Regions from separate parts of the Homo sapiens genome. Here all the other regions are linked to region 1. The links come from fine-mapping of genetic effects on gene expression. A gene starts in region 1. Each other region holds a variant in brackets. All regions are shown on one strand. Distances are between the middles of the regions. Region 1 holds the start of CA13 (carbonic anhydrase 13). Region 2 overlaps CA13 (carbonic anhydrase 13). Region 3 has its middle 100 kb from the start of CA3-AS1.

Region 1 (4,248 bases):
TTCCAATAGGATTTTCCCAATCTTTCTCTGAAGACCACACCTTTAAGTAAGGATGTGGTCTTCAGAGAGAGATCGCATCTAAAAGAAAGGAATGGCTAATTCCTAACAGAACAATTCCTAACAGAAATACAAAATCACTCCTTATTAATGGCTTTGCTAAGATGAATTTTTAAAATTGCTGAAATAAGCTTCATTCAGGTGAATAATTTCTAACCTACTAAAGAGTAATCAATATCCATTGATTGATTGATTGAAATACCCTTCTTCTTCCTAACTACCATAAAGGCGCAGTTGGGATTCAATGACTATTAAATAACTCCAATAAAAACGACTTCAGCAGAGAGGGAAATGAAAAAAGATTTGTCATATTTTCCCCCTAAACATTCACTGGAAATTAGCAAAATGTAAGATTATAATTATGGCCTTAATCAAGAAGAAATCTGACTATACACCTTTTATTATTAAAGTTATAAATTTCACCTGCTGCCATTTTTAAACTAGCATGTTTAAAAACAGGCTACAATTAGAAATTAAACAGGCTACAATTAGAAATAGAATTTTTCTGTTAGTTTGTGAAATTAAACTTTCTATAAAATTTGACCATTCTATACTGTTTAATCATGTACATGCTAATAGAAGGAAAGCATTATTATTCACAGCCTTAATTTTTTTCTTTATTATGTATTTACTTCTTAAATTGACAAAAATTGTATATATTTATGTGTACAACATGATGTTTTGAAATATATGCACATTGAGGAATGGCTAAACTAAGCCTTAATTTTGACAGTTATTCACTATAAGGCTTTTTGGTGTCACTGCGATTATTTCAAATAATTATTATTTAAACAATCAGTTCAGTTTAACGTAGGAACAAGAAAAAATGTTTTACTTTTGATAATGTGTGATATACAAGAAGAAAAGTGTATGTCATTATTATTTATCCTATTAATACATTTCTATCAATGAATTATAATTTCAGTAATCCTTTGCTCACCCTGCAAGGATGAGCGTGGAGAAGAAGAGTGGAGAAGTAACCCACAATGTAACTTAATTTCCCAGCGAGAACCTGAACCCTTACTAAAGTCCCCAGTAGTAGTCAGCCAACTGCAAATTGCTGTGGGAATATTTACAGTAACAACTATTAGGAAACATGCAGTATTTTGTTTGCCACGAAGCCAACTTAATCTTCAGTGTCACAATGCAAGTTAAGATTTCCTAAATATATTTTTAAAGATTTTCTATGATTTGTTTCTCCTAAGTGAATAGTGAGCTTAAAAGACTGAAAGCGAACTTGTCCTTATTTCACTGAAGTGTGTCATCAGACTTCTGATCTCCAAGCCTGTAATTGATACGTGGCTGTTACTAGGCAAAGTCCTTGGCTTTTCAGATGAAGGTGAACTCACACGTATGAACACTTGGGAGTTTGGGGAATCCTGACAGAGATAACACACACCAACGCTCACATCCACCACCAACAACCCGTCTACCCTGACAAGACTGCTCTCCGCTTCTCGCACTGGGCTCCCAGGAGTGCTGCTTAGTTTAAAGAGGAACCGAAAAAGTTTCTCAATGTGCGAGCCCAGTGTGTGGTCAGCGAGCGCCGGGGCGTCGCGCTAGTCCTCTCGTCCCCCGCACAAACCCCCCCTTGGATCAGGAAAAGGCGCTCACCGTTGTGCTCGCGGTATCCCCAGCTGAGCCTCGACATGGTCCCTCGGGGTGGAAGGAAGAGAAAGATGTGACTGAGCAGCGAGAAAGAGGAGGGAGCGGGGAGGGGCCCGGGAAGGAGCCTGCTAGGGCGGGACCGCGGGGCGCCGGCGGCAGGAGTGCGAGACCGTGAACCCGGTCCGGGGCGCTCCCGCCTGCGTCCTCCAGACGGCAGAGGCGTGCGGGGAAGGCGCCCGCGCCGCTGGCTGACTCCTGGGGCGCGAGTCTCTCTTAGTTTGGACTCGGGAATGAGAGATTTGAGTTAGAGGGAGAGACGGAGAGAGAAAGGTTTCCGGGGGGGATCTCCTGCCTTCTGAGGAGTCGTCACTCGGGAGAGGAAAGTGTTGCCTAGAGGACTTCCAGGAAGTGAATGAGTCACCAGAGCCTGGAACTGCCAGGCTGGGAGGTGGGGATCCCGGTGGAGGCGTAAAAGAGGTCGGTGATGGTCGTGGCAGTGATGATTACAAATACAAAACAATAATGACGATGGTAATCACCACCACTGAAAAATAACTACTTATTAAGGGCTTATCGTGGGCGAGGGTCTTAGCTAAGACGTGTACCCACGTTTTCCCATTAGATCCTCTCAGCATTTCCTCGAGAAACACGTGGCTTAAGTTAGAGACACTATGTAACCTGCCCCGGGTCGCTCAGCTAAAGCGGGCGGGGTCGCTGTTAGAGAGGACCAGCTCCCGGTCCTGGGCTGGCTCCATTGCCCATTCATCCTTTCCTTACCTCTTCTCACTCTGCAGGCTTGTGGCTTGGTGAGTGAGGAAACCAAAACCAGTTGTTGAGATTTGGTCCCAAAATTCTGCTGCCCTCCTGACCCCGCAAGAAGGGTTTTCAGGACATCTGCCCTGGATTCTTGGTGGGCTTGTTACCCTAGGACTGGAGTCAGAACTAGCTGCAGAGTCTTGAATTTCTGGCCTGGAGTCGTGAATGTTCTGGGTTCAAAGTGAAAAATAAAAATTGGGTACATGAACCACTTTCTACGTCCTTGTCTCGGGTCAACTGCCTCATATTTTATAAATCCAAGCAACCTCTTTGTAAGGAACCTAGTAAACCAATTTTCAGTAACTCGGATGATTTGGTATGTCAAGATGAATAATGCTCTTAACGTTCTAAGTAAGTATCAGTTCTTGACACCCAATAATAGTGGTTACATGAATGGATGAATGACTGAATAGACCAAAATTGTTAAAGAAATTTTGGTTGGTGGGTCTCAAATACTTCCCAAATTGTTACTTTTATTGCTTGGGTACACAGTTTGTAACCACCCAATGGGTTTACCTTGCCCACTGTCAAGACACAGCTGATTTATCAAGACAGGGGAATTGCAATTCATAAAGGGAAATTCACGTAGAGCCGGCTGTGCAGAGGACTGGAGTTTTATTATTACACAAATCAGTCTCCGCAAGCATTGGGGATCAAAGTTTTTAAGGACAATTTGGTGGGTGGAGGAGAGCCAGTAAGTCGGGAGACCTGGTTGTTTGGGTCAGAGGTGAAATCATAGGGAGTCAAAGCTGTCTTGCATTAAGTCAGTTCCTGGGTGGGGGCCATGGGATCAGATGAGCCAGTTTATCGAGCTGAGTGGTGCCTGCTGATCCATCCAGTGCAGGGTCTGCAACATATCTGAAGCACTGGTCTTAGGCTTTACAATAGTGATGTTATTCCCAGGAGCAATTTGGGGAGGGTCAGAATCATACAGCCTCCAGCTGTATGACTCCTAAACCATAATTTCTAATCTTTTGGCTAATTTGTTAGTCCTGCAAAGGCGGTCCAGTCCCCAGGAAAGAAGGTTTGTTTTGGGAAAGGGCTGTTATTGTCTTTGTTCTAAACTATAAACTATGTTCCTCCTCAAAGTTAGTTCAGCCTATGCCTAAGAATGAGTAAGGACAGCTTAGAAGTTAGAAATAAGATAGAGTTGGTTAGGTCCAATCTCTTTCACTGTTTCAATTATAATTTTGCAGTAGTGGTTTCAAGTTCCTTCTTGTTTAAATTCATAGCGCAGTCTATATAATTTTCTAAAACAGCAACCTAAGTATTGGCAACAATCAAATTACCTTTCATAGGAAACTAGTTAGGTCATCTGTAGAGCATCCATCATTCAATGGACTTATATATATATATATTTTTTTCAGATGGAATTTCGCTCTTGTTGCCCACGCTGGAGTGCAATGGTGCGATCTCGGCTCACTGCAACCTCCACCTCCCAGGTTCAAGCAATTCTCCTGCCTCAGCCTCCAGAGTAGCTGGGATTACAAGCATGCATTACTAGTGGCTAATTTTTGTATTTTTAGTAGAGATGGGGTTTCACCATGTTGGCCAGGCTGGTCTCCAACTTCTGACCTCAGGTGATCCACCCGCCTCGGCCTCCCAAAGTGCTGGGATTACAGATGTGAGCCACTGCGCCCAGCTGCCATTCAATGGACTATTGTCCATTTATAAAAAGAATGAAGATCTCCATGAGCAGAGCAGATATAAAGTGAGTCCTGGGATGTATTGAGGTTGCGGGAGCGGGGGAAGCAAAGGAGCAAAAGA
Region 2 (4,248 bases), 37 kb before region 1:
TAAAGAAGAAGTGTAAAATGCAATCTCATTGTGCGTAATGCGCATACATGGCCCTGACACAGTTGAAAGCTTTTCTCATTTTCTTTATTGTGGTTGAATCCAATTTAAATTAAAATATGAAATGCTTAACAATCATAAAATCAGTATTTGCTGTGGTAAACAAAAGAGATCTACACTAGTATTTACAACTCTTTAATTTGTTTAAAAAGGAGGCAATATAACCATTTTAACACATTTAAACCTTTTGCCTCTAGAAGATATATCAATTAACACACAATATTCAAGGAAATCAGTGCTGTATAGATATTTTTGGTCTATTAAGGTGCAATTTATAATACAGAACCAACACAATACTGAAGCAGAAACCATAAGTTACAAAGTAGTAACTCTCACAGACAGTAATTAGAACCCCTGTCCTACATGCCCCTCCACATATAGCAACTTACATTCTTCCAGAAAACAGGTTCTTTCCCTGACTAGGATACTTCACAGGTCTTTCCAAACTAAAGAAACACTTTTCCACTCAACACTGGTTTTTAAAAACCATTAGAACTTTTGGTTTTACAAGTTACAATTAATTAGTATTCCTTTAAAAAGAAACTATTTTCAAAAGACAATGTATTTTACTTGTTATATTAACTTATAGTGCATTTAATTTCAAGCAGAGAGATAATTACCAAAGACAGCAAATAAAAAATTTTTTAAATATTCAATTCATTAAATAATTGCTACAGATCAATCTTCTAAAAGCCTTAAACTAGACACTGAGGGGAAAAGAACATTGACCAAAGAATTAGCTTCACTCTTCAGGAGCTCATCTTATGCAACAGTATCCACCACTGTTACACAATTTACTGATATTCAGTTATTCTATCAACACGGCAGAATAAATTCAATTATTAAAATCTACATTCAAGCCAGGTGTGGTGGCTCACAACTGTAATTCCAGCAATTTGAGAGGCCGAGGCAGGCAGATCACTTGAGGTCAGGAGTTTGAGACCAGCCTGGCCAACATTGCAAAACCCATCTCTACTAAAAATACAAAAATTAGCCGGGTGTGGTGGCATGTGCCTGTAATCCCAGCCACTCAAGAGGCTGAGGCAGGAGAATCATTTGAACCCGGGAGATGGAGGTTGCAGTGAGCCAAGATCGTGCCACTGTACTCCAGCCTCAGTGACAGACTAAGACTCCGTCCAAAAACAAAAAAAAAACAAAAAAAAACTACATCCAGAGGAAGAGAGATAAAAGAAACAAATCTTCCAAATCAAGGAAACTCAGGTAAACTTATGTCAGAAGATGACAAAAGGGTAGCATGTGTTCAAGTCTTAAATGTGATTATTAAGTTAATGCTTAGTGTCCCTCTGTTTGTACCAGAAAGGGCAAAAGAAACACCACTCTTATCCTTCACCAAAAACAAACAAAAATAAAAGATAATAGGTTAAAATTAAGATCAAGCTCCACCTGACAAAATTAAGAGACTGAAGGACATGTATAAAAAGAAAAGTGAGTTTTGCCATGGAAATGAGTTGAAGGGTTTATGGACCCATTCTATATTTATATGAGACTGAAGTAATTTTTTCCACAAATTGACAGAACAATGACCCACACAAAATTGCTTCCTGCTTTGCTGCCAAAACACCAGGCAAAAACGGGCCACATGTTCATCATGCCTAAGGGCAGCTCTGACTGCACTGGTACTATGTCATATGTTAGTTTCAAACCAAGTTAATGTCATAAACTGGCAGGCACTGCATCTTGTCAATTATTAGCCAGTTCATTATTAACATTACTGAGTGAATATCATATATGGTATAATTCATTACAGTGTAAATAGCCATTTATATCCTGGGGAATTCCTCACCAAGACTATATGGAATATTTTTGATCAGTGGAGGAGACACATTAAGTAGCTTTATCCCATTGCCCTTAACTCTTATATTGTTCATTTTATTAAAGGTATCATGCAATGAGAGTTAGCAATATAATCACTGCAAAAATTATCCTTA[T/G]AGGAAAACGTAATCTACTTTTTATGAACTGGAATAACAAAATATTAAGCAGAATCACTTGTTACAAAAAAAGCATCACAATCCTATCATTTGAGATATAAGTTTCCATCTAACATCACTGAGAGCTGTGACTAATTCAGTCTCTATGGCAAGGTAAAATTTTTAATACATTCTAAAGTTTGCAATGTTAACTATATTTTCACACAGGTTGAAGTAGACATATTTCATGGGTTTTAATATATGTCAAACAATGCTTACTGTGAATATCCATGAGTGCAAATAAGAGACAGATAAGTTAGTAAAGAGCTCTGGGTCAGCTGGGCTTGATGACCCATGCCTGAAATCCCAGCACTTTGAGAGGCAAAGGCAGGAGGCCTACTTTAGGGCAGGAGCTTGAGACCAGCCTGGGCAACATAGCAAGACCCTATTTCTTAAAAAAAAAAAATTTAAAAATTAGCCAGGCATGCTTGTGCATGCCTGTGGTCCTACTTACTCTGGAGGCTGAGGTGGGAGGATCACTTGAGTCCAGGAGTTGGAGGCTGCAATTAGCCAAGACTGTACCACTGCCCTCCAGCCTGGGTGACAGAGTGAGACTCTATCACTAAAAAAAATAAAAAAAAAAGAGAGAGAGATCTGGTTTTCTTTGTGACACTGAAGCTCATACTAAAATGTTTCCTATAAATTAGAATTCCACAAAAGAGTTGTTGGCAGAGACTTTTGTGCTTTGTTTTGTTTTGTTGTCTCTCCACAGCCATGTTTGGGGGAGTTCATTGGTGACAATTTTTAATGGAAAGAGGCTCTCACTTTGCGGCCCTTTAGAGGCTGTGGTGGGCGGTGATTGCTCACCAGAAAAGCTGCTGCTTCACCCTCCGCTGTGCACAGGAGACTGCGAAATTTGGCCAGCTGTAGAAGAAGAAAAGAGTTAGCTTCAGCATAGAAATTCCCACCAATATTAATGAATTACCCTGCATAAAGAAGATATATCTATAACCAGGAACAAAAAATACTGCAATGAAAATTTTCTGTTACATGTCATATATAATAAAGCAACTCTTTTGCTAAATTCTCATCACTGTACAAATACCTACAGGTTCCAAAATTAAATGTATAAGCATTTTTAATTTGAGACCAGCCTGGCCAACAAGAGGAAACATCTAGAGTGTGGTTTAAAGAGTAAATATTTAGAAATCAGAGAATGTTTTTCAATGTTTTTCAATCTATAAACACACATACATACATACATTTTATGACAAAAATGAACTCAACTATATATGCTGTTTTGAAACCTAATTTTTTCACTTAGTATATATCCTAGCCATCTTTGCATGCCAATACATATCAACCTACATCACTATTTTTTGTTGCTGAAAACTTTTCTATTATAAATATGTTTTATAAATTTTTAACAATCCCTTGGTGGTTTAATATCACTTATTAAGATTTAGTACAGGTCTAAAGTGAAGTTGGAAAAATTAAAACTAATTTTATCTTCTCAAAAATATGCACCAAAATTATACTGTCAATTAATAAAAGAAAATCTTTGGTGTTTATTTTGTTTTACTTTGATGAAGACAAATTATTAGGAATGAGAACCTACATTCTCTAAATTTTGTTAACCATCTAATCTCAGAGTCAACCAAATTCACATCCTTTAGGTTTTCATCAAATACCTGATGCCTAAAATGTTTCTTGTACAGTACTAACCAGGACGGGGGCAGAGGAGAGAGAGGTCCTTTATAAGAAATAGGCAACAGTTTATAACCATGCTCTATGGCAATAGGATCAACCATCATACATACAAGCAACCATGTTTTCCACATGTGATATTTTGAGGGTTTTATTTGTTTGTTTTTTGAGACAGAGTCTTGCTGTGTCACCAGGCTAGAGTGCAATGGCAGAATCTCGGCTCACTGCAACCTCCACCTCCCAGGTTCAAGCAATTCTCCTGCCTCAGCCTCCTAAGTAGCTGGGACTACAGGCACGTGCCACCGCACCCAGCTAATTTTTGTATTTTTAGTAGAGATGGGGTTTCACCATGTTGGCCAGGATGGTCTTGATCTCTTGACCTCATGATCCGCCCTCCTCAGCCTCCTAAAGTGCTGGAATTACAGGCGGGAGCCACTGCACCCGGCCATTTTGAGGTTTTTGTTTTTTTTTTAAGTACAGATATGGGAAGGAGACAAATGTTTACAACGTACTATTACTCATGTTTCATTAGACCAGATCATTATAGCTAAAACCA
Region 3 (4,248 bases), 320 kb before region 1:
GTGATACTCAACAAAGACTCAGTAAGTGTTTGCTGGGTGGCACGTTCTCTTCCAAACCAGAACTTATATTTCCTAACAAACTTTTAACCAACAAAAATATCCCTAAATTTTTTATTTTGTTTTTTTTTTTATGAGACTGCCTCAACTCTGTTGCCCAGGCTGGAGGGCAGTGGTGCGATCAATTAAGCTCACTTAATTGAGCTTAATGAGCTCAGTTAAGCTCACTGCAGTCTCTCGACTTTTGGGCTCAGGTGATCCTCCCACCTCAGCCTCCAGAGTAGTGGAGCCTGGAGATGTGTACCACCAAACCGGCTAATTTTTCTATACTTTTGTAGAGATGGGGTTTCACATGTTTCCCAGGCTAGTCTCAAACTCCTAGGCTCAAACAATCCTCCCACCTGGGCCTCCCAAAATGCTGGGATTACAGGCTCAAGGCACCGTCCCCAGGCTAAATTTTTACACTTTTGTAAAACCATCAGGACCTCATTACAGAACTTCAATGTCATATTCACCTTTGTTCTTTTAAACCAACCCTTGCTACTCACCATATTTTCAAATGCATGTTATTATTTTTTACTTTAAAAGCTTATTTACGGCCAGTCACGGTGGCTCACGTCTGTAATCCCAGCACTTTGGGAGGCCGAGGTGGGCAGATCACCTGTGGTCAGAAGTTCGAGACCAGCCTGGTCAACATTGTGAAACCCCCATCTCTACTAAAATTACAAAAATTAGCATGATGTGGCAGCAGGCACCAGTAATCCCAGCTACTCAGGAGGCTGAGGCAGGAGAATCGCTTGAACCTGGGAGGCGGAGGTTGCAGTGATCTGAGATCGCTGCCACTGCACTCCAGCCTTCGTGTTACAAAGCAAGACTCTGTCTCAAAAAAACAAAGCAAAACAAAACAAAAACTTATTTACTTGTAAAACAAAAAAGTTTATTTACTTGTGAGCACAAGGCTCACCCTCTCCTATGAATCATGAAGTTATTCCCATAAAGCAATTTCTGCAACAATATTGATTGTCAGAGGAAGGGTTGGACCTGAGAATACTGGGGTTTAAAGGCAGACTGTAATTCTGTAATATTAAGAAACAGGGTTGAGTGGTCCCCAACTCTTGACTAGTGAGCATTCTCCGGTTTCCCTCCTGAAATATTGTTCTCATAAATGGCAACATATTGATTTTTAAAAATTTAAGTCTGTAATCTTTTTTCCTTCCCACAACTTTGGCTGCAAAAGCAAATCATCAGAATTTTTAATAAAAGATTTTCTTAACTTAGGACATTATGAAAATTTAATAAAATCCTTTTCTGAAATAAAAAAAAAAAGCTGCATATATACATTATATGGTTTTTTTCCAGGTTATTCATTCTTCATTTCTGTAATTAAATGGGACAGAGAGGAGATTTATTTAGCTCTGAACTTGAATTTTCCCTTTCTTTAAGGGAAGTGGGTTCAGTTAGAAGCCAAATAATTAGGTTTTACATTGGGAAGAAAGATTCACAGAACACAAAATACCTGGAGTACAACTTTTATTTCTCCCTCAGATAACAAGGAAAGAAATAATTCATAGCACCAACTTCAGTGAAAATAATCCCTCTTGGAAGCCAGCTGCTGCCAGTGTCATGTGTCTGTTCAAAACGGCAGAAACAGGAAGAAGAGATTCTTCTTTTTTTTTCCTCAAAGAAATGCTCGAACTCTCTGGGCCTAGAGCTCAGAGTAGTACACAGAAAATCTCCACAGTGGAGTCTACAGTCTGGAAAACAACCATCTCACACAAATGTAGACTTTGGAGCCCTGGGTCCAAGGGTCCTTTGAGTCTCAATTAACATTAACTAATGGAAGAAAAGTCTTAAAGTCCTCAATACCTAAACCTTTAATAGATATCAAGACATCTCAAATGCCATCTGAAATGCTTAAAAAAAGACACTTTAGATTTATAGACAGGCTTTTTCTGAAAATAAAATTGCACCAATATGTATTTCTGACCTTACTACACCATCTGGAGAATAAGCATTATTTTATTATTAGACCAGTCCTCCGGCCCCCCTTGGCCATGGGAAAAAGTAAACAAAGAAGGAATTCATACATGCAGTTATAGCCTGTCAGTTATGGTAAGAATTGGAATAAACAAAATTCATATTTAGCAAACCATGTGTATTTCTAA[C/A]CTCACCCTCAGAATCACTAACCAGACACAAACAATAAACTGTTATTCCTAAATCCAGAAATATAACAACATCCGTAGATTTTTGCTTGATCTGTGCTTCTTAGGTCACTCATGGTGGCTTAATAAGTGTCTTCCAAATTTTTCCTGACCTCATTAACCTGTGGACTCAAATGAGATCAGTGTGTTATTTAGACTCCCCTTTAGCTCAATGACACTCACTACTTTGACAAATTCTGAGGGTCCCTCTCCCTCTCTCTTTCTTCTGAGCGTCCCCAGGGACTGTCTCTGCCAGCTTCTGGATGGATCTGGACCCATCATCTCCCTGGTGTACCCTAGACCAGGGCTTGTGAAGTTCTACTTCAGCAGATGCCAGTTATTCCCTTGCAGCATCCTCAGAACTATTGTTCTGTTGTGTGCTGCTGCTCACTGCAAACGGCCGCTTAGGTGGTCTACTCAGAAACTTTCTCCTTTGGGAAATTAGGAGGAAGCCCCTTCCTCCTCTGGATCAGCAAACTTGTGTGTGACCCAAGCTGCAAGAGCCCACTACATTTAAATACAAATCTTCCTCCCTATGGTATTAGGAAACTTCCAGTTTGTCTGGTATCAGGGTGGGTTCCGGTTCCAGCCCTACACCAGTTCCAGATGCAGACCCTTCTCCGAGTCTCCCCACTTTGAGTAAATTCTTTCAAGGGGCCCACAATTCCTTCTTATAATTTGCTTTCTGTCATTTTTCCCTCTTCTAATTAATTGGGCACATATATATATTTGAATTCCTATCATAGACCATGTTCTGGTTCTTCTCACAGGTGGTTCCTCTGCCATTATAAAGTTGGCCAATGAAATTAGATAACAGATAGGAGGTGTTACCTAACCCTATATCCCAAGTGTATATATATATATGTGTGTGTATATATATATATATGTGTGTGTGTTTGTGTGTGTGTATATATGTGTGTGTGTATATATATATATGGTATATGTACATCCAATTAGATGTGTGTGTGTGTATATATATGTATACACACACATACATATATATCTCCAATTAGAAATAATTGCTATGTGTATCTCTAATTGGATATGCATATATATATAAAATATATATTAGAAATACATATTAAATACATCCTGCCTTTGCCACCCTAACAAATATAGAGAGTAAACATACATATATATATACACAACTAGTTTTCCCAGATCTCACCACCTATGATGCAAATGAAGTTATCTTAATAGATATTCAAACTCTACTAGCTTTTATATCTGTCATTCAAACTATCTATCATTTTACATATATATAATGGGATATAGGGTTTAGAATCAAATCCCTGGATTTGATTCTAAAATTTTGGGTTCTGATCTTAGGACTGCCACTTACTAGAGGTACAACCTTGGCAAGTTACTTAACCTCATTGCAGTTCAGTTTTCTCATCCCCAAATTTAGAACAATTATACTTAGTAAACACTTCTGCTTTGATATTTGAAAGAGATAATACAATGGGAACTTTGTAAAAAGTTCTTAGTATAAAGGATTTCATATGTGGCAAGAGTCCTCACTTGACCTGTAGCCAGGGTTCAAGAGCACGTGAATGTGTCTGGGGAACTTGCCTGCCTGGGCCAGCTAAAATCTTTTTGCAAGAGGGCTGAAGAAACTTCCGAGAGAGACTCCAATCTTACCAAAGGATTCAGATACAAGGGACTTGACTCAGTAAGGAGATTTTGGTCTTCAAAAAAAAGGGTTTATTTTCAGTTTAAGATGATAATATACCTCTCTTTAAGCTCAATCCCCAACTATGCTCAGGTCTCCCTAAACACCTATTGAGGAAGCTAAGCTTATTTTTGATCAGGGCAAGCTTTTAAAAGCTAGTAGAGTTTGAATGATATCTATTAAAATGACTCCATTTGTATCATAGGTGGTGAGATCTGGGAAAATTAATTTTGTGTGTGTGTATATATATATATATGCTTACTTTCTATATTTGTTAGAGTGGCAAAGACAGAATGTACTTCATGTGTATCTCTAATATATATTTTATATATATATACACATATCCAATTACAGATACACATAGCAATTATTTCTAAT

Evidence for each region. PIP is the estimated chance that this variant, and not a neighbour inherited with it, causes the effect.
Region 2: its variant is the best candidate, but not a certain one, in a credible set for the expression of CA13 in whole blood (INTERVAL, PIP 0.72).
Region 3: its variant is the best candidate, but not a certain one, in a credible set for the expression of CA13 in whole blood (TOPMed, PIP 0.61).

Annotation. Positions count from the first base shown.
Region 1 is chr8:85,243,289-85,247,536 of GRCh38, reverse strand. It overlaps CA13 (carbonic anhydrase 13), which reads right to left and starts at 2,079. Exons shown (of 7, transcript NM_198584.3): 1 at 1,672-2,079. The coding sequence starts at 1,708. It overlaps LOC105375936 (a long non-coding RNA gene), which reads left to right and starts at 4,052. Exons shown (of 3, transcript XR_929126.3): 1 at 4,052-4,192. RefSeq lists an enhancer at 1,275-1,384 and a silencer at 1,745-1,824.
Region 2 is chr8:85,279,891-85,284,138 of GRCh38, reverse strand. CA13 (carbonic anhydrase 13) reads right to left here. Exons shown (of 7, transcript NM_198584.3): 7 at 66-2,909. The coding sequence ends at 2,790. Among named protein-coding and RNA genes, the nearest start is that of CA13, 37 kb to the right of the region's middle. The variant T/G (reference allele first, on the strand shown) is at 2,007.
Region 3 is chr8:85,566,602-85,570,849 of GRCh38, reverse strand. No RefSeq gene overlaps it. Among named protein-coding and RNA genes, the nearest start is that of CA3-AS1, 100 kb to the right of the region's middle. The variant C/A (reference allele first, on the strand shown) is at 2,163.